Regions from separate parts of the Homo sapiens genome. Here region 1 is linked to region 2. The links come from fine-mapping of genetic effects on gene expression. A gene starts in region 2. The other region holds a variant in brackets. All regions are shown on one strand. Distances are from middle to middle.

Region 1 (10,544 bases), 77 kb before region 2:
ACAAAGGCCGGAGGGAGAAACAAGGGCCCCGAAGGAATGAGTCCAAGCAGGGCTCAGCCACAGCGGAGGAGCGACCGTGGGGCTCGCCGTCGCCGAGTCCTTGCGGTGTCCCAGGCCGTGAAACTCACATATAGTCAATTTCAAGGCGCAAACTCCAGTTTCGTCTTCAGCCAAAAAATAGCGGAGGGGAGAGGCAAGGAGTGCTGATAACAAAAAGAATAGTTGAGATTCGGGGGTTCATGCGGTGAAACACAGCGCGCAGCCAGACTCAGAACCCAAACTCTCTATGGAGTCGGAGGACGCTCAGGCAGGTGGCCTGGGGGGCGACCGGTTCGAGCCCAGCCCCGGGTCTATCGGCCTCTGGACCAGCCGGCCAAGAGGATTTGATTCCCTGAGCCGGTCGGCGCCGCTACAAGGGCTACGCATGGGTCTGCAGTATTCTGCTGGGGCCACTTTACTGTGGAGAAATTCGAGGTCATTGCAAAACCGAAGCTTGTTTGATCTCTTAGTCAAAGGAGGAAAATAATATTTGTAACTACCTAAAAGTGTAATGGGACCTTCTGTGCACGCTGAATCAGTAGCCACTGAGGCGAGGCCTTGCAGCCTGCAGCCTGCGGTGTGGGCTGAGTTTCTCGGTTTTAACTTTGCTTATTGAGTGGCATAGGGGATGGCCCGCGACCCTGGCATCGCCATCAAGAGACCTCCTCTCCTGCAGCAACTTTGACTTAACGAGGTCTATTGGGCTTTAGGTAACTCGACCCCTGGACATTCAGAGATTCTTAGCTATAACCCAGGTTTCTGTTAAGCACCATTCAAGCAGGATTCGGAAGACCTACTTCAGTGTCAGAATTCTTTCAAAAGTGAAAGACCAAAAAAAAAAAAAAAAAAGTCCTAAATGCGTAAGAGAGAAAAAAGACAAAAAACGTCCTATTCTCTACCCTATCCTACAAATAGCTTAAGGGACCCTCAGGACACATATAACAAAAAGAGGAAAAATGGCCACCAGGAGGCACTGACAGGGTTGTTTATTATAGTTATTATGCATGAAAATAATATTAAGATAAATAAAAATTATTCACAGAACAGTAAAACAGTTATAGGCAAATGGCTAAAACGGGCAGGACTCACTGTACCAGAATGGAGCTATTGAATCACCCTCACAAAAAGGCTTATGAACAGTCCCTCAGCAGGCAGCCATGAGACACCCCTTTATTTGCAAATTGGCTCTCTTCTGACTCAAAGGTCAGGTCTGGAAAATACAATCGGGCTGAAGAGATGATTTTTAGAGGTATCAATTAAAATGAAATGATTCCAATTTTATCAGCAAATGTGTAAAAATGCTCACATCTTTAAATATCTGGAAATTGCAATTGCATGAAAAAAGAAGGGATTAATACATTTAAATTAGTTTAAATGTTGATGTCTAGACTGCTGAGCCTGTGTATATTACACTGATTTGAAGAAAATAACACCATGTAGGTGTTCTATGTGCGTTTTGTTTTTAAAATTATTTCACTGTTTGGGGTGTAAAATCTTCCTTTGTATCACACTAGCACACACATTCCATGAGGATCAGGAAAAATAGTAAGGTAAAACAGCTGACCTTATAATGTATAAGTCTTTTCATTGGTAATATTAAGCTGCTACTTCTGCAAAAGGTATGCAACAGGTAATTCAGAAAAATAAATCTATAGTGGTAAACATTTTTTTTTAGTTCAGTGTGGACTATTTTGGAAAATGGTTACTACACTACTACAGTTAAGGAATTTTATCTCTAGATTAGAACTATTTTGTCAAGTCCAGTCTGCAGGCAGTTACAAATGAGAAATCTTTTAAAATCTTTTTATTAATTTTAAATAATACTTCACTCTTGCTTTTCAATTATATTCTGGTCTGATCACTTCTTAGAATGGCAGGTTCCCTCTCTGAGCTGACTTAATTTTTCATAAAACAGAAACTCAGAGATCCATGTCAGTGTAATGTTCTATGGATTAAGTGGATTTTGAGAAGCACAAAAATTAAACTAAAAATGCAGTTCCCTCTAAGAGAGAGAAATGCTTCTGGACTGTAACCATATGAGAGCCATTTTATTTATACTTTGTGTAGAATGTAAGATCACAGATGGAAACATCAAAGACCAGTAAATTAACCTGATGTGCCACTTAACCTTTTGTTTATGATTCCACAGAAGTACAATGAAAATGAAATTACGAGAACATCAGTAGCAATTAATTAAATTACAAATGTCACCATAAATATGATCTCTAATGATAGATCCTCACTAATAAGATAATGCTAAAACTATGAAACCTATTGCAGACACAGAAACATATCCCTAAAATGACCGCAGCTCTCATACTCCCCATGAAGCCATCAACCTAAATTTAATCCTACCATTTGTTGAAAGCCCATGACAGTGCATATTAAAGGTAAAAGTTCAACTCAAATAGCTTTACATTTGGAAAGAGGAAATCTCTTTAATGTTGATAATCCTTTTAGCAGAAAACATGAAGAAAAATTGCTATTTGAATACAATCACTCTAATGCCACTATAATAAATAAGCCACTCGAATGAAAACTAATACTGTTTCAGGATTAAAAGCATAAAATAATTAAAGACCAGTTGGTACTCTTAAAAATTTATTAGTTATGGCACCGATGCCCATGAAATATTTTTAAAAGGATGAGTGGTTTGTGGGTTGGTATTCGCTTATTAGAGAGATCAATGACATGTCAAATTCATAATCTTTTTAGGGTTAAAGAAATACGGACTAAACATAAAGCAGAATCTAAATAGTTATCTTGTAATAAGAAAAGATATTAGAGTAAATTCAGGTAGAAATCGGTTGATTGCGCTGAAGGAAGGATGGATCTTATTCCCAGACAGAATGCTGAAATCACTGTACATTTAGGAATCTGGAAACAGCCTCCAGGGTGAACACATTGCCTTCCTCAATAGTTTGATGGCTTGAAAGAATTGTTGAAGTCACTGAGCTGAATACTAGAGCTTGAAATTTCAAGTCCTGTTATATCTTTAGAGTAGGATCAGGTGAGCAGCCATACCAAAATCATGCCAGGTACACTGGAGTATGGCAATTATTTAATTGGGACAGTCTTACGGTACAGTATAGGTTAAAATCTTACAGAATTACATTCATTAAAAAGCAACCACACTGGCTTGATCCAACAAAGGTGGTAGAAACTGTGAGGGTAACCTTTCAGTCTGTGGAATCACTCTAATGCATTCGCAGGAATTTGTGGTTACGCCTACTGAATAAAAATGGTGACGTTCACTCGGTTTTGTGGTTACACCCTGGAGAATAAAAATGGCATTATATTTTTAAAAGGATTATTGTGTCTAAATCAAGTAATTTTAGTATGTCCTGTTTCTCCAATACCTTCATGTAGAAAACCATGTTAAAGCCCAGTAACCATAGAACATGTCCTAAATACCCAAAGCACTGAATAAAATATGTCTGGTTATTAGTAATAGCTGAGGAGTATATTATGGGTTGATAACTAATGTATTACTAATATAGCTCATGAATATTTTGTTTTTAATTTTTTTCACCATTAAAAATCCAAAGATGAGAAAAAAACACAAGTCATAATAGCAATATCCTTCTTGTAGATTTGTTTCCCTGGGAATTAATGGCTAGATGAAATTAATGAATCAAAGCATTCAACTCCTACAAACTCATGATTAATCTTTAGAAAATATTATGAAGTCAAACTGCGTCATTATTTAATGGTCAAAACGGACCACTTTACTAAATTGGCATATATATTGGAGTCAGTGCTTCCAAGCATAATTACATGGTATATTGCTTTCATTATATTAGTGCCTGTTAGTACAGCGTTAAGCAATTCTAAATCCTTTAAGCCATTTTCTCCTTTTGCTATGTGATACCCAGAAAGACACTTTAAAGATACTACTCAAATGACTTTACAAGTTCAGCAGTGTTAAAGAGTCTTCTTTTTTTAACATTTCAGCATTAACGTGAGACTATATCACAAGAAAATTTAATTGGAAAACTCATCATTTAAATTTTGAAAGAAATGCATGGAAATTCTTGACTTCTGTCTCATTTCTCTCATTTTGCCAAGTGATAAAATCCAGCATATTGTACCCCAAATCATGCATTATTACATAGTGCAGGTTTACAAAACCACTAAATCACTTGCTATGTTATTCAGGGAAATATCATTATAGTGGAATAGAAATGAAACAAGCCACAAAGTAGAAGATGTTTTACTGAAATAAATCAAATCTAAGTCTGCCTGTTGAAAGATTTTCCAAGGCAGAATCACAATATATCTAAATGAATATGAAGCCTAATTTGAGCTAAGGATCTGACAGAATGTCCACAATGCATGAGATGATAGGCAATTTGACTGTTTGTAAATGTCTATCAACTCACTAATGAGATCACAGGCTTACCATGGGCAGATTATAAGCAGCCTCTGCCCTCAAATCAAGCCACATATTTAGAATCTCCTAAGTGTAAGTGGATATTCAACGAAATCATTCAAAAATTCTTGAAACTTGAGAGGCCTCAGAGCATGAAAATTTAGTCCTTTCTTTAACTTTTAGATATGTTGAGGTTAAATTCTTGATTTAAATGCACATGTCATAGTTAAGTAATAAAAAGACACGATGGAAAAAAGAACTCTGAAAACTCAGGTGATATAATCAAAGATGTATAAATGAGCTAAGCTTCTGAAGCAGCCTGGTAAAGGGGGCTTTACATGAATTAGATTTGGAAAGCCCTAAATCAAAAGACTTTTTCTTTTTTTTTTTTTTCTTTGTAAGTAGTAGAGGAGTTGGTATTTTCCTGGGTATTTTTAGCTATTACATACCTCAATTTTCTAATAATTGTGGTGAACAGCTGAACTTAGACTTGAACTTCTGTACTCATAAACAGCTGATTAGAATATTGCTATCTGGCTTAAATTAAAATGCAAAAAATACTATTAGTTTCATTTCAAAATGTGATTGGGCATAGGGATCGAAGGAGTTAGAAAAACGAGTGATACAGGAAGATAATAAATTGTATGCATAGTTTAGAATGTGTAGTTAGATAAGACTGCCAGAATGGTCCCCACTGAAGCACTATTTTGTCCCTTTCTGTCCTCCTTCTCACTAACGTAGCGGAAACTGCCACAGCACTATCCTCATAAAGCTCTGAGGTCAACATGGACTTTGCTATGCTAAATTCTGTACTATGGCAGCAAGTCAGCTTGTGATGCTACATGAATGGCAAAAAAGAAAACTTGAGAATTCTCATTTACGCATCCTAATTCTTGTCTGTTTCACATAGGTGCGTGCTAGTGCAATTGCCCAAGATGCTGATCAGAATTACGACTATGCCAGTAACAGTGTGGTTCTTCATTTGGAGCCGGGAGATGAAGTCTATATCAAATTAGATGGCGGGAAAGCCCATGGAGGAAACAACAACAAATACAGCACGTTTTCTGGATTTATTATTTATGCTGACTGATAATGCAGAAACTAAGCTTATTATTCTGAGTTTGAACACTGGATTCGTATGGCTAACGTCAGTGAATCAAGGATCCCAGGGGATGCCAATGGCAGGGCACCTCAGTTGTGTATATGTGGGGAAATCAAATGCTACCTGACTCACATCTGTATCACTCAGAAACATTATGTAAAAAATATCAAAGCAAGATAAGCAGATGTGTGATCCACTACCGCCAAAGCAAATACTCCTTATCGTTAGTGTCCATGTGAATGAAGTCCTATATAGATCACAAATTTTTATAGACAAATCTAAGACATTGAATTATTTCTTCTATATATATGATACTTTGGTGTACTGTGATCTTGCTGCTTTTATCCATATGTCAGCTTTGGTTCTTGTGAGTTTACCTGCTTATTATGATACTTGGAGTCCATTCATAGTGTGGGGAAGAATGATTTTTGCCCTGCAGGAGAAGGTCTAATTGAAATAATGCTGCTTGTCCCCAAAGAAATTGTTTGCCTTGTACTCTTGTTAACCTTAGAGCTAGACCTGGGAATGATTCAACTTCAAGCCTTAACCTGGAATTTTCTGGATTTGAGGGAATTCCCAAGCCTATGATCTTTTTCACATTTTCTTTTTCTTATATGAATTTTCTTTTCTCTCTTTTCTGGTGATAGTCTTTAAAAATAGAGATTGACAGTGTATCATAGGATTACCCTCTAAGTGTGAAAATGTGTAATTATGTACGGTATTTAGAAAAAGCCCTTATGTGTCCATTTTGTCAACTGAATACATTTAGATTCACTGGGAAAGTCAGAGAAATTTATTCTTTAGTATCAAATCAAACCGAGGCTTTTGCCATCTTTGGAAGAAAAGATTATTCATAACCCAATGCACAAAGGTTTAATTTGAGCTGCTGCATACGTCACCAAGGGGACACTAGGTGAGGCCTTCAAATGATTACTACAAGTCTGTGGCCTGAGGTTATTTTAAAATTAACAATTTCGCATATAGCCTATATGACAACAGAGTGTTTATATTTTATACAAATATCTG[CT/T]AAACATGCACACATATACTCACACACACATATATATATTAGATGAAATGTTTTATTTATGTATAAAACATATACATATAAAACATTTATATATATGGCTTTATTCCACAGGGCACAGTGGCTGTATAGCCTCAAAATTTTAATATAAAAAAGTGTATGCATATATACACACACAAACATGCACAAATTATTTAACTTATTTTGGGTTAAAATATATTTTGAATGACAATATATGGAGTAGCAAAAACAGTTAAAATGACTTCTCTTTAAGAGTTATCCAGAAAATTAATTGTATTAGGTCAAAATGCCCTTTATTTCACAGGTCTGTAAGTTAAGGCTATGGTTGCTCTATTACCATATGCCAATCAATACTTTAACTGCATTCTGTGACAGACTGTTAATATGAGGACTGCAGACACCAAGTGGCTCTCCTTTGCAGTGTTTATGAATTACATGCATTTGAGCTATCAATTTTTTTTTCTTTTTTCTCAGGTGGAGTGAAGCTGACAGTACAGTAGATTTGGAGAGTAATACAAATCCTTTCTTTCTGGTTAGAACACACTGCCAAAAGCCATCTCTTTCATCTAAGGAAAAGATTAAAAATGCATGTTGATATCTCCTAACTATCACACAACTTCCACTATTACAATGAAAAATCTGTTCCCCTTTCATTGCCTCTGAAAACTCTTTGACGAGTAGATTTCAAAAACAGAGATTTTAAAAATTTGCTTGCTTTACTGGTGAAGGACATTTGCATTTTTTTTTTTTATTTATTTAAAGGAATTAGTTTGTTCTCCTGGCTCATTCCTCTTTGTTACTTTCTGTTCCAATACACAGAAAGCTTGATCATCTTTGATCAGCAGAAATATCTTTTATTTAGCAAAGCTCAACTTCCCAAGAGTTATGCATGGTGTGCCTATCTGAAGGTGGTGTTAGCTCTGTTGAAATGCCTGGGTCTGAGTAACTGTCATGATTTTTATGATTAAAAACAGACTCTTCATCAAGAATAATGACTAATTCTAATTGGTCTTTGTGATATGTAAGATAACTCATAAATGAATTGCAATGGATTTTATTTCGAATTAACTATATATTTATCAAAGAGGAACTGGCAGCAAGGGTTTGGAGAATATTTTTAGGTACCAAATAGCATAGTGAGGATTCAACCAAAAGATGAATTTATAAGCAGCAGTGCCCATCACCTAAGTGTTTTAACTAACAGGTTTTAAAAACATTTTATTTACACAAAATATCAGGGCTGGATACCTTTTAAAGAGGAGGCTCAAGTATCGGGCTGTCATTTCCAATAGATCTGACCTTTTCTTCAGATACATAAGCATTATTTTCTCTGTTTAGGTCCAAGGAAAAACAAAAGGTAAAGGAAATAAAGGGAATATACATAAGGCAAACATTTCTCTTTTTTTTTTTGCATTATATCTTACCAATTAATTAAATTGTGGCCTTTGTTATTATAAATGTAATGATTCATTAAACTATATTATGTAATATATTTTGACTTTTATGATTGAATTTTTATAATTCAGTAGTGTTATGTGTTCTTATACAAACTTTGCAAAACAGCAAAATGTATGGCAAAAATAGATACCGGAAAGCCAAAGATATCAAAATCATTTCAGTAGAAGAATATATAGATAGGTGGACAGTATAAAATTAACCTTTCAAAATATTTTTATCATTGTGAATTGGTAATTGTATTACAGTCAGTATCCTTTGGGGAAAAAAGTCTCAAAATTTAACTTCCCTTGTTGCAGAAGCTATTTTACAGTGCCATATTATTCATTAAGCATTAATTAAAGAACAGCAGGATAATTAGTAGGATCATCAATATTACAAGAAACATTAGATCGCTCAAGAAGGAAATAATTTAACTAGAAACACTTTAAATTTTCTCAAGTAGTGCAGCTGATAGATTAGGGAGAAAAACAACAACTCCGCTTAGGGGATATAGACTTTAAATCATTGTTTAGAAATAGGTACTTCTGTATTTATTTTGTTAAGTTAAAATAATAGGGCTCAATTAGGCTGAGTAACTCCCTAGAGGCACAGTTGTAATAGCTGGTCTCAGAGAAGGCAAACCCTCCTAGTTCTCATCAGAAGGAAATGATCTGTCATTAGTCCTAGGTAACTGATTAATATCTCACAGTGGACTGGAAATCGCTGAATGTTCTCTGCAAGTTTTATACTCAAGGTGTGAATTCATAAGCAACCATCCTATTTGAAAGTTAGCCATTGCTTAGGGTTCTCTATTAGAATCTTATCAAGCACATTCTCAGTTATGCCTCTCAGCAACATTTTAGGAACAACATTGGTGAGTATATGAGAATAGCCGTGACCTCCATATTTCATCAGCCGGGTTTTCGTATGTATGTCATGTGCTACCAGAATTCGATCTTCACAGCCCTCTTCCACCAGGAGACGCACCCTGTGAAAAATGTTAACTCATTAGATGTCATTTGTCTTTCATTTTCGCTTTTCAGGATGCTTTCAACTTTTTACTCATTAACCTATTGTGCTTGTCGTAAAGATACTGACTTCTACTGTGGCGTGTGTACTGAGAGACCTTTAATAAATATTGTGTGGTGACGATAAAAATATTGCTGCATCCTAGCAGGAACATATCCTTATTCCATGCATACAGAAATTTCTAACCTGTGACATTTATGACCATGCCTGGCAATACCGCATTAAAGATAGCTTCTAATAGGATGTGCCAGTTTGGATGAATGACCATTTTGGCATTTCACTAAATAACTTTGTTCTGGATTTGTATTCAGCAATCCTCTCTCAAATGCCTCTCCCTGTGGGCCCATTTTTCAGATCTCATTCTTGCTCTCTCCTTTTATCTGGCCAAAAAATATCAAGGACTGTTTGCGATTAAAATAGGGAAACAAAAGGAATCTCACTACAAGTAAAATATTCTGAGAGCAAAATCAGTTGGTCTGCAAGTGAGGGGCATTTGATAAGCTACAAAGCCACTGAAAAAAGGTTGGTCAGCATTTTAACCATTTGCCCCTTTGAAGTCTATGGCAATTTTGATTTAGTTGTAGCCTCTGAGCATTGGATTAAACTGACCAATACAAATATATTCTGTCTTCTTTCCATGTCAGCAAGATTGCTAAAATAATAAGCTGTTCCTTTAAATTTATAGTCAGTGGACTAAAGAACAGCTTCCTGACTATTCTCTAAAAATGAAATCCTCTTTGCTTTGTTAAATGCTGGAATCTGTAGTGTGAGTCACCTCCTGACAGCCACCATCTGTACGTGTCTGGACTCTGGGCAGTGTCTGTCGTGACTTCCATGGGTCTTTGATGGTAGAAGATGCCACTCACAGACAATGGCTCTTCTATGGGATTCTCTGAATAGTTTTTTTGGCGTCTAGATTCTAAAGTGGATCTAGACGGACGGACAGTGCCTTCCTCCAGAGGCTGATTATTTGAAAGGTATCTTTTTTGTTTCAAAAGCATTTCTTGGTGTCCTAGTACATGAGTCATATTTAATAACTACTACAGTGAGCAAAACGTGGGGTACTACACACACAAAAAAAACTCAAGCACAAAGCCCTGCCCTCTGAGAACACATATTTTAAAATAAATTATAATGGAAGAATAGACTTTGTATCTGCAGGTCAAAGGAATGCAAGCACTAGCAGAGAAGAACCATGCCTGTCCTATAAGTGCATGTAATGACTTTTGTGCCACTATGATTTTTTGCCTCATTGAAATTTGTATACTATCCTGAAGTTCTGATCTGCAGTTACTTTTGGAACACACTCAGTTTAGGGGAATTATCTAAGATAAGTTATATTATCACATAAAAAGACAAAGATTTGACAGAATGCACACACAATACTGAAGCTTAGGGTGACAAACCTTGATCCACAACTGCAAAGAAGTATCACGGTATAGGAGGTTTTAGGAAACACTTTCTCCCTGATATTTTCTGGGCATTTTCCAAAATTTTTGCCTATGTTTCTTATCTGATAA
Region 2 (10,544 bases):
TGGCCTGCAGGCTCTGAATTTATAAAGTGAGAAGAAAATCTGTCAAAAGAGCTGGCCAGGCACATGCAAGTCAACCTAATTCTTATTTACTTATTTAATAGAGATGGGAGTCTCACTGTTGCCCAGGCTGGTCTTGAACTCCTGAGCTCAAGCAATCCTCCCGCCTTGGCCTCCCAAAGTGCCGGGATTACAGCATGAGCCACCGTGCATGGCCAACCTAACACTTTTAAACAAATTCTGATGGCAATCAGATGACAGCTCAGGGCATGGGCTCTGACCAAATAAATCTTTATTTCAATTTCTCAATTACATGGTCGGGCTTTATCTGTCCTCCAAACTGTTAGAGAGCAAGACTGATAACATCTAACCTTTCAGATATGCAAGAATGTAGGAGATGAGACATGTCGAATTGTCAAGGCATAAACATGAGATAACTTTGAGAATTTATGAAAATTTAAAAAATGTTTTTAAAAATCAACAAACAAATAATTTGGAAAATAGTAAGCCACATCAGGAAAGAAATTTTGTGGGTACACAGTAACACCAAGGATTTTGTGGTCGCAATGGGCTTTCAGTTACATAAAAGAGCACGAAATTAACAATATTTACCAATATTCTCTTCAAAGTGCTCTTCACACACCAAATAATTACCCAATTAAGCCACTGCAAGATAAGTTGCTATTACTCTGGATTTAGTAAAAAGAACTAATAATTACTCTTTTAACAGTTTCTGTGAAGAAAGAACTCAGTGTTTACCATACACAAGTGAGCACATCCCACCCGTTTAATAAGTAGGGAACAGGAAAAAAAAAAAGGCTGATTATGTAAGTGAATTCAGTGGAGGACACAGATGACTAAGAACCACAACCTGTGAAAACAGAGAATTTAATATGTAAAGCAGAGACCACCATTGGCAAAAGGCTATTTATGAATACTGCCAATACTTAGCATTGCCAGCTGACAATAGAAGATCTTCGGTCATGCCCCGAACAACATAATTCATCACACTAGTGCTTGGGCCAGTCACGTCCAAGCAATTTATCATCATCATATCACTCGCCTGACTATAATAAGGGGAGAACTTTGATTGTTAACCTCTAGGGAGACTGGATTTATAGCCAGTGTCCCCTAAGAATGCAGCACAGCTCTGTCCAAAGCACAATGCTCCCGGCTTGCCTTCTGTTTAACTCAGAATAAAAGAGTGAACACACTGCCCCTAGGACATTAACAGCAAAACCTAAGTCTGATACTCTTAGATCCGAAATCAGATAGCCAGGAAATCATATTTAAAATACTCTTTGAAGCTGCCTGAAAAAAAACGTATTAGTCAATGGTAAGTACGGATGATTCATTTCAAATGTCCTTCAGTGACAAAATAATTTCTGAAATGTATCCACTGATAACTGCATTTGGGAAGAATCATCTTTTCACAACTCACCCACGAACATTCCTCTGTATTGGAAAACTTGGAAGTGCACTGAAAATTGTTAAAAATATATAAATTGTGTTTTTCAAAGTAAAAATGAAAGCCTTGATTCTTATCCCTTCCAGGCATACAGCCTTTACCTATTTTACACTTTAACATGGTCTGCCCTTACAGAATGCAATTAAACATCTAAACGCCATTTTTGCCACTCTTGATTAAAATCACAAAGCAGACTGGAGCATGATGGGAACAGCACACCTGCCATCTCCCACACAGTAAAAGGAGCATGATTCATAGGACAAGCCTCTTTCAGGGCCCTCCCCACAGCTCCCAAGGTATCTGGTAAACCAGAGCCAGAAATCCCCGCATACATGCAGCTTATCTGATAATATTCATTACGCAGGCTTGACCAGGCTAGGCCACAGTAACACTCAAATCCCCGAATCTCAGGGTCTGACCACAACAAAAGTTTATTTCTAGCTCATCGAATACGTCTAACACAGGAAGGCAGGGGGCTCCGCTCACTGTCCTCTATGACCCAGGCTGAGACCACTGCCTCTATCTGGATGGTCACTGCGGCAGAGGGAAAGTGATTGTGACAAATCTTTCACTGGCTTTTAACACAGTTTTACCTGGAAGTGACACAGGTCACTCCACTTGCGTTTCGTTAGCCAAACAAGTCACGTGGACATACCTGCCTGGAAGGAGACAGGGAAATGGCTAACATTCACAGCTCTCACGCTGAGCAGGCACAGAGGTATTTGTACTCAGGTGGTTATTGTTTTGACAAAATAGGTACAACCACAGAGCCAGTTTATGCCAAATGGAACCAGATATTTTATTTTTCTTATTCTTTTTTCTTTTTCTTTTTTTTAAGAGATGATGTCTATGAATGAGAAGCCTTTTGTTATAAAAGTGTTATTAAGGGCCGGGCGTGGTGGCTCATGCCGGGAGGCTGAGGCAGGTGGATCACCTGAGGTCAGGAGTTCAAGAGCAGCCTGATCAACATGATGAAACCCCGTCTCTACCAAAAATACAAAAAAATTAGCTGGGCGTGGTGGTGCATGCCTATATTTCCAGCTAGTTGGGAGGCTGATGCAGGAGAATCACTTAAACCTGGGAGGCAGAGGTTGCAGTGAGTCAAGATAGGGCCACTGCACTCCAGTCTGGGCAATAGAGTGAGACCCTGCCACAAAAAAAAAAAAAAAATCTTGTTAGGAAAACCTGGACCACTGAAAATACACTAGAAACAACAGCTAAAGAAAACAGAACAAAGCCACATTTGATGTATGAAAATATATTCAACAACTACCTCAGTCAAGTTCATAGGGATACTGAGCAGACTCGAGCTTGATCAGAAATTCTCAATATTATTACTATATGGCTTACTAGGGCATTTAATAGATTTGAAGTTGGCTGGCTGCCGTGGCTCACGCCTGTAATCTCAACAGTTTGGGAGGCCGAGGTGGGAAGATCACTTGAGCCCAGGAGTTTAAGACCAGCCTGGGCAACAAAACAAGACCCCCCATCTCTACAAAAATAAATAAACTAATAAATATTTTAAAAAGAAGATATTTAAGGATAAACATTCCTCCTGTATGAATGGGTCCTGTATGTATGTATGTCCTGTATGAACACTTTGCACATGGAAGCAAAGGTGGACATTTACCAAGCTCCTCTCATGCTATACAGTTCATCATTTTGTCTTTAAGCTTAAAACTGAGACAATCTCTAAAATTCTTGCATCAGGGCTGCTTACTCAACTTAAAATAGTCACAGGGATCCTATGGCCAAGTCCTGGCACTGAGTACACGGTCATGTACTTCTCCAGATTCTAAATGATCTATTTTTGTGTTCTCTTACTCTCTGCTTCTATTTGGCTCAAAATTTACTGACACTTCAAAGGATATTAAATTGCATTTTTTTTCAGAAATGCTTCTCACTTTAGCCATATTGAAGGTATTTTCTGTCCTTCACAGGGAAGGGGAAATTTGCCCAGTGAAACTGATCTTTCCCTAAGTCCCTCCAGAAAAGCCACTGTCCTGATTTTCCTCCTGTCTCACTAGCCACCTTCTGGCTGGATACTCCGCTACTGACCTCCAAAATACACATTTATTGATCTTTGATTGAATAAACAGACCCTTCCTGACTACCTTGTAATTTCAGCAGCAAATATGACCCAAAACTGGAAGACCCTCTCAATCTATTCTGGTTTGAGGGCTGCCCAATTAAAAAGGAAAAAAACTGGCCCAAAATATCATTAAATGGTAAAATCAGGATCTTATCCTCATAAATCCATAGATTATTACATCCACTAGCGACCTAGAGACCACTTACCTTTTTTTTTTTTTTTTTTGAGACAGAGTCTTGCTCTGACACCCAGGCTGGAGTGCAGTGGTGTGATCTCAGCTCACAGCCGCCTCTGCCTCCCAGGTTCAAGCAATTCTCGTGCCTCAGCCTCTCCAGTAGCTGGGATTACAGGCATGCCCACCACCATGCCCAGCTAATTTTTTGAAGAAAAGAGGTTTCACATGTTGGCCAGGCTGGTCTCGAACTCCTGGCCTCAAGTGATCCACCTGCCTCAGCCTCCCAAAGTGCCGGGATTACAGGTGTGAGCCACCGCGCCTGGCCTGAGACCACTCACCTTAATGTGTCTAGAAAACAGGCAGGCCAGGCGCAGTGGCTCACGCCTGTAATCCTAGCACTTTGGGAGGCCGAGGCAGCCAGATCATTTGAGCCCAGGAGTTTGACACCAACCTGGACAAAATGGCAAAACCCCGTCTCTACCAAAAATACAAAAAAAAAAACAAAAAACAGAAAATAAAAACTAGCCGGGCGTGGTGGTGTGCACCTGTGGGAGACTGAGCTGGGAGGATCACTTGAACGGGGGAAGTGAAGGTTGCAGTGAGCTGTGATAGCACCACTGCACTCCAGCTTTGGTGAAATAATGAGACCTAGTCTTAAAAAGCAAGAGGCCGGGCGCGGTGGCTTACGCCTGTAATCCCAGCACTTTAGGAGGCCGAGGTGGGTGAATCACAAGGTCAGGAGTTCGAGATCAGCCTGGCCAGTATGGTGAAACCCCGTCTCTACTAAAAATACAAAAATTAGCTGTGTGTGGTGGAGCGCGCCTGTAGTCCCAGCCACTCAGAAGGCTGAGGCAAGAGAATCGCTTGATCCCGGGAGGCGGAGGTTGCAGTGAGCCGAGATCGCACCACTGCACTCCAGCCTGGGCAAGGGCGAGACTCTGTCTTTAAAAAAAGCAAAAGAAAACCAACTTGTAGAAAGTCACTGAGCTGGAACCAGAACTAGAATAGGGCTCTACTCTTTCTGGGTCCAAAGTTCTTTAAATCAGCAACCCCTCTTACTGCCTATGTAAGGGTATACCTTTAGTTCCTGTTGACTTGGGATGTACAAAGAATGAGGTAGTCTAAGAGAGTAACAGCACACTGGCTGTGGAGTCAGAAAGACTCCACCTCTAAACTTTGTTTCCATCTCTAAACTTTCCAGCAGTGTGGCCTAATTTTTCTGTACCTTAGCTTTGTCGTTATCACTAGAATCCTTCACAGGGCTGCAGAGTGGATTAAGCAAGAGTGCACAGGACTCAGACATATGACCGCTGGTAATTGGCTTTTATAAACTGTCAAAAAATATAGACCTGTAATGCCAGCACTTTGGGAGGCCGAGGCAGCAGACTGATTGAGCCCAGGAGTTCGAAACCAGCCTGGGCAACATGGCGAGACACTCTCTACAAAAAATACAAAAATAACCGGACATGGTGGCACGTGCCTGTAGTCGCAGCTACTCAGGAAGCTCAGGAGGCTGAGGCAGGAAGTTCGCTTGAGCTCAGGAGGTCGAGGCTGCAGTGAGCTGTGATCGCGCCAAATGCACTCTAGCCTGGGAAGCAGAGCCAGACCCTGAATCTAAAAAAAAAAAAAAAAAAAAGCTTATTAAAGGAGGCTTAGCACAGCTACCCGATGACGCCCCCGGGCATTGCTGTCGAGCCACAGGGAGCTGGCGCCACACGGGACTGGCGCTCTTTGCAACGTCCCTCAAGCACTTAAGGAGAGGCGGCAGGGCCCAAGCGCAGCGGCTAGAAAATCCTTCCTTCCGGCAGGACCCTCGCGTGGAGCTCTGCAGCGAACCCTGGCCGCGCGGCCTCCGCCGTCGGGCCCCACTCTTCCTACTGGGCCCACAGTTCCGGCTCCTGCTCTGACTCCAAGAAGCCTTACCTCGGGTACAACGCGCTGCCTTCTCCCTGGGAACTTCCGGCAGGCCAACTTCCCTGGCCTTTTTAGTCTCCCCTGTGCCCTCCCACTTCGCCCTCTGGTTCTCTCCCCGCCCCTGGCCCGAGGTCACGCCCTCACCGAGTCCTAGGACACGCCCCGTGGGTCCTTGCCAAGCCCTACCTCTTCGTAGGACACGCCCTTCAAACCCTTGCCACGCCCCACCCTGGTCCGGGGCCGTTCCCCGCGTTTTTGCCTGGCCACACCCTCCTGCAGGCGCTGTCTGACTGTCGGTAGTTTGGCTGAATGAAAAAAATTCGGGGCTAGATCCCCAAACGGAAAGAAACTGTTGCATTTTCCCCAGATCCCAGTTCTCCATAGAACAGTCTGGAACAAGGGAGCATTCCGTAGCTCTTTTGGTTTTCCCCAAGAATAAATCGGAGGTGGTGCTCTGGCAATTTGATGTCACAGTGGGTTCTGGATCCTCATGCTGCATACGGAGAACTTTGGTTTTTGTGTTCCCACTTGTCACTGTTTCCTGCCCCGGTGCCGCGTTTCCTTCTCTTTAGAATTAGAGTGCCGTGCTAGAGCACTTGAACTGGCCCTGGTACTTGCTGTGACTGAAATAAACTTAGTATGTGTGAGTCTGTTGGCAAAACATGATGCTTGGAGCAGCTGCCACAGTAAAGAGTCATACCTTTAGGTATTGTAGGGGGCCAAGGGCAAACCTCTCCTTCGTCCTCTGAAAGTTTGCTGAAAATCAACTGACAAAAGACAGTTTCACAGTAGAAAAGGCATACAAATATACTAGATCGTAACTTTATGTGATCCGGGAGCCTTCAGAATGAAAACCCAAAGATGCAGGGGAAACGGTCCATTTTTTCGCTTAGGTTCAATAAAGTATGGACCGCCATGTATTCAGCTGGTGCAAAAGTAATTGCGGTTTTTAATGGCAAAAACCGCAATTACTTCTGCACCAACCTAAGAGATACTACGATGGCATAAAAAGGGTCTGAGCTAATGCCAATAGACTAAGTGAGCAAGCCCTGTCTGTTTAGATTCTTTTTGGCTTTTCTGTGCAGTGTTCCTTCCTTCTGGGTATAGAGCAGGATCCTTTCTGGAATGGGGGTCTTATGACCTACAGTCAAACAAAGCAGGGCAGAGAATTTCTTTACCGCCAGTTTTGACACAGAAAGGCAGGGGACACGCAGAGTCAAACTTTTAGGTTTTATGCTTGGCTTTGGGGATGAGGGGTTCTGGCTTCTGTGAATCACCTTGGGGAAGAGGGATTCCAGTTTCTAGAATGAGGGGCCAGAGGCAGGAGGACATGAGGTTAGAGAGAGCTGCTTCTAAGGCCTTCATTTTGGGGTATCATTTTCTGAACCCCAACCATATTACACTGTCATCAATTATTATTATTATTATTTTGAAATGGCTCTGTTGCCCAGGATGGATTTCAGTGGTGCAGTCATAGCTCACTGCAGCCTTGAACTCCTGGGCTCAAGGGATCCTCCTGCCTCAGCCTCCTGAGCAGCTGGGACTACAGGTGTGCACCACCACACTCAGCTAATATTTGTAATTTTTGTAGAGATGGAGGTCTCGCTATGATGCCCAGCCTGGTCTCAAACTCCTAAGCTCAAAGGATCCTCCCACCTCAGCCTCCCAAAGTGTTAGGACTACATGCATAAGCCACAGCACAAGGCCTAGTCAATTAATTTTATCCTGAATTCTGAGAAAAAAGAGAATAGGTATGCAGATGGGCAGAAGCTACAGATGTCATTTCAAAGGAAAGTAGAGTTTTAATAATAATATTAATAGATGATGTTTATCGGGGCCAACTCTACCAGGTTTTGTAATGGGTGTATGTTATTTTGTTTAAGATTTTGAGCAACCTGCATGTGGCAGGAGCTATTTCCCTCCAATTACAGACAAGAAAACAAACTTAGGCAAGCACCTTGTTCAAGGATAGGACTAGGGACCCAGATTAGTTGATATCAGTCACTACACTTGCCTTCTTAGTAAAGAATGGGGAATTTTTTTGGTTTGTTTGTTTGTTTGTTTTTGAGACAGAGTCTTGCTCTGTTGCCCAGGCTGGAGTGCAGTGGTGCAATCTCACCTCACTGCAGCCTCCACCTCCTGGTTTCAAGGGATTCTCCTGCCTCAGCCTCCTGAGTAGCTGGGATTACAGGCACGCCCCACCATGCTCAGCTAATTTTGTGTAATTTTAGTAGACATGAGGTTTTGCCATGCTGGCCAGGTTGGTCTCGAACTCCTGACCTCAACTGATCCACCTGCCTTGACCTCCCAAAGTGCTGGGATTACAGGCGTGAGCCACCGCACCAGGAGAGAATGGGGTGCTTTGATAGGAGATTAATAGAAATAAATTAATTCATTTAAATCAGAAAAAAAGGAGGAGAAAAGGATATACAGGTCTCGTTCTCTGTTTTTTGTTTTTTAAGGGTAAAAGTACAAGAAGTCATTTAGAAAAGGGGTTGGTTGGTAAGGGACAGTCAGGGAGAAGATACTGAGGAAAAAATTGGTTCTTAAGGAGGGTGGCTGGGTAAATCCTAGAAACAGAAAAGGGATAAAAATAGGGCCCAAGAGTAGGAAAGACAAGAATAACTGTAGGGGTTAAGAACTGCAGAGGCATGAGTGCTGGGACAGTTGGATATTAGTAGCAATGACGGGCTCACACTGAGATTCTGTAATGAGGAGATGGATCCAGGGAGGCTTCTGGAGTGATTTCAGTGCTGGCTCCCACTTTGTGTGTGCTACAAGCATGGAGCCATATAAATGTGTACCCGACAGTGGGTGGTAAGGAGAGGCTCGAAAGTCCATTATTTATAATGTTACGTATTTTAGTAGTCTATGCTGCTAGATGTTAAATGATACATGAGGTCCTTGTTAAAAAATGACTTCAGGCCAGGCGCAGTGGCTCACGCCTGTAGTCCCACCACTTTGGGAGGCCAAGGTGGGCAGATCACTTGAGGCCAGGAATTGGAGACCAGCCTGGCCAACATGGTAAAACCCCATCTCTACTAAAAATACAAAAATTAGCCGGGTGTGGTGGTGCATGCCCGTAGTCCCAGCCACTCAGGAGGCTGAGGCATGAGAATTGCTTGAACCTGGGAGGTGGAGATTGCAGTGAGCTGAGATCATGCCAGTGCACTTCAACCTAGTGACAGAGAGAGACCCTGTCTCAAAAAAAAAAAAAATTGAAAAGTAAACTTTAGTTTTTCTTTATGGAAGTTACTAAATTCTCCACTGCCCACAGTAAATCCACTGAGCAAGATTTGTGATGGATTTCAAATGCACGCTCTTATTTCTGTGGCTTTACTCCTTAAAAAGATACTAGTAAAGAGATTTTATTTCTTTTTTGAAAGAAGCAGCTACAAAGAAATTTCAAATTAATATGCAGGAGATTTATTTCAGGAACTTTCTCAAACTATTGCCTACAGGTGTGTTCAAAGAAAGGCAGAGGCCAGGTGTTGTGGCTCACGTCTGTAATCCCAACAATTTGGGAGGCCAGGGTAGCAGATCCCTTGAGGCCAGGAGTTTGAGACCAGCCTGGCCAACATGGTGAAAACCTATCTTCCCTAAAAAAACAAACAAACAAAAAAAACAGGCCAGGTGCAGTGGCTCATGCCTGTAATCCCAGCATTTTGGGAGGCCGAGACGGGTGCATCACAAGGTCAGGAGTTCCAGATCAGCCTGGCCAAGATGGTGAAACCCTGTCTCTACTAAAAAACATACACACACACACCCACACACACAAAACTAGCTAGGTGTGGTGGTGGGTGCCTGTAATCCCAGCTACTCGGGAGGCTAAGGCAGAGAATTGCTTAAACCCGGGAGGCAGAGGATGTATTGCGCCAAGATCACGCCACTGCACTCCAGGCTGGGCAACAGAGCGAAACTCCATCTCAAAAAACAAAACAAAACAAAACAAAAATTAGCCAAAGGTCATGCCGTGCACCTGTAGTCTCAGCTACTCAGGAGGCTGAGGCAGGAAAATAGATTAAACCTGGGAGGTGGAGATTGCAGTGAGCCGAGATCGTGCCACTGCACTCCAGCCTGGGAGGTACAGCGAGACTCCATCTCAAAAAGCAAAAACAAAAACAAACAAACACAAACAAACAAAGAACAGTGGAGAAAATCATGTAAATCCAATGCACAAGAATGGAAAACTTTTTAGCATATAGCACCTGTGTACATACTGTAATCCTATTTCACTAAGCACTGTTGTTAGTTAAACACTAAATGCTACTGAATCTTTTAGAAAGTAAAATAAACATTCTTCACTACCGGACTCAAAATCTACTAGCCCTGGGATAGGCAGACAAGAATGGGTGAAAAGGGTTCTTGAGGATGTTCTGCTGTTAAACATGATAATCTGGCATCAAGCTTGTGCCCAACTTTATTTTTCAGTCTTTCTTCCTAGAGAAGCTTAACTTGGAAATAATTTTTGAAACCAAGAATATCAATGTACTGTCGTATGTCTGTGATGAAGTAGCAAAGTTGAAAATCACATTATTAAGGAACCGAGTTTCCAAATCGATCTCTCAGTTAAAGGTTTAGTTCAAATGCACTCTCATTTCTACAGTACTTGCTTTTCCTTTTCATAGTATCTTTGAATTTTGACAGTACCTGTACCCGGGAACACTAAATTGGCAAAAAGAACGAAATCAAAAGCAAACATCCAAAGCCCCTGCTATTTGGGTTAAAATTCTAGAAAACACCCAGGTTTTCATCACCCTAGTTAGTTGTTTTAAATATTTACACAAAAGTAGTCTACAGAAACAATCTGGGGAGGGCAAAATAGAAAATAATCCAGATAATTATCAGATAAGCAGCAGGAAAAAAAAGCAGGACCTATGATGTCAATTCTATCAATG

The links. PIP is the estimated chance that this variant, and not a neighbour inherited with it, causes the effect.
Region 1: its variant is fine-mapped to the expression of PTER in skeletal muscle (GTEx, PIP 0.91). The same link has a PIP of 0.9 or more in whole blood.

What each region holds. Positions count from the first base shown.
Region 1 is chr10:16,509,485-16,520,028 of GRCh38, reverse strand. PTER (phosphotriesterase related) reads right to left here. Exons shown (of 5, transcript NM_001261836.2): 5 at 6,284-8,983. The coding sequence ends at 8,773. C1QL3 (complement C1q like 3) reads left to right here. Exons shown (of 2, transcript NM_001010908.2): 2 at 5,322-6,295. The coding sequence ends at 5,501. Among named protein-coding and RNA genes, the nearest start is that of C1QL3, 7.1 kb to the left of the region's middle. RefSeq lists enhancers at 1-99, 100-600. The variant CT/T (reference allele first, on the strand shown) is at 6,540.
Region 2 is chr10:16,432,159-16,442,702 of GRCh38, reverse strand. It overlaps PTER (phosphotriesterase related), which reads right to left and starts at 5,693. Exons shown (of 5, transcript NM_001261836.2): 1 at 5,656-5,693. RefSeq lists enhancers at 5,099-5,148, 5,169-5,348 and a silencer at 5,769-5,818.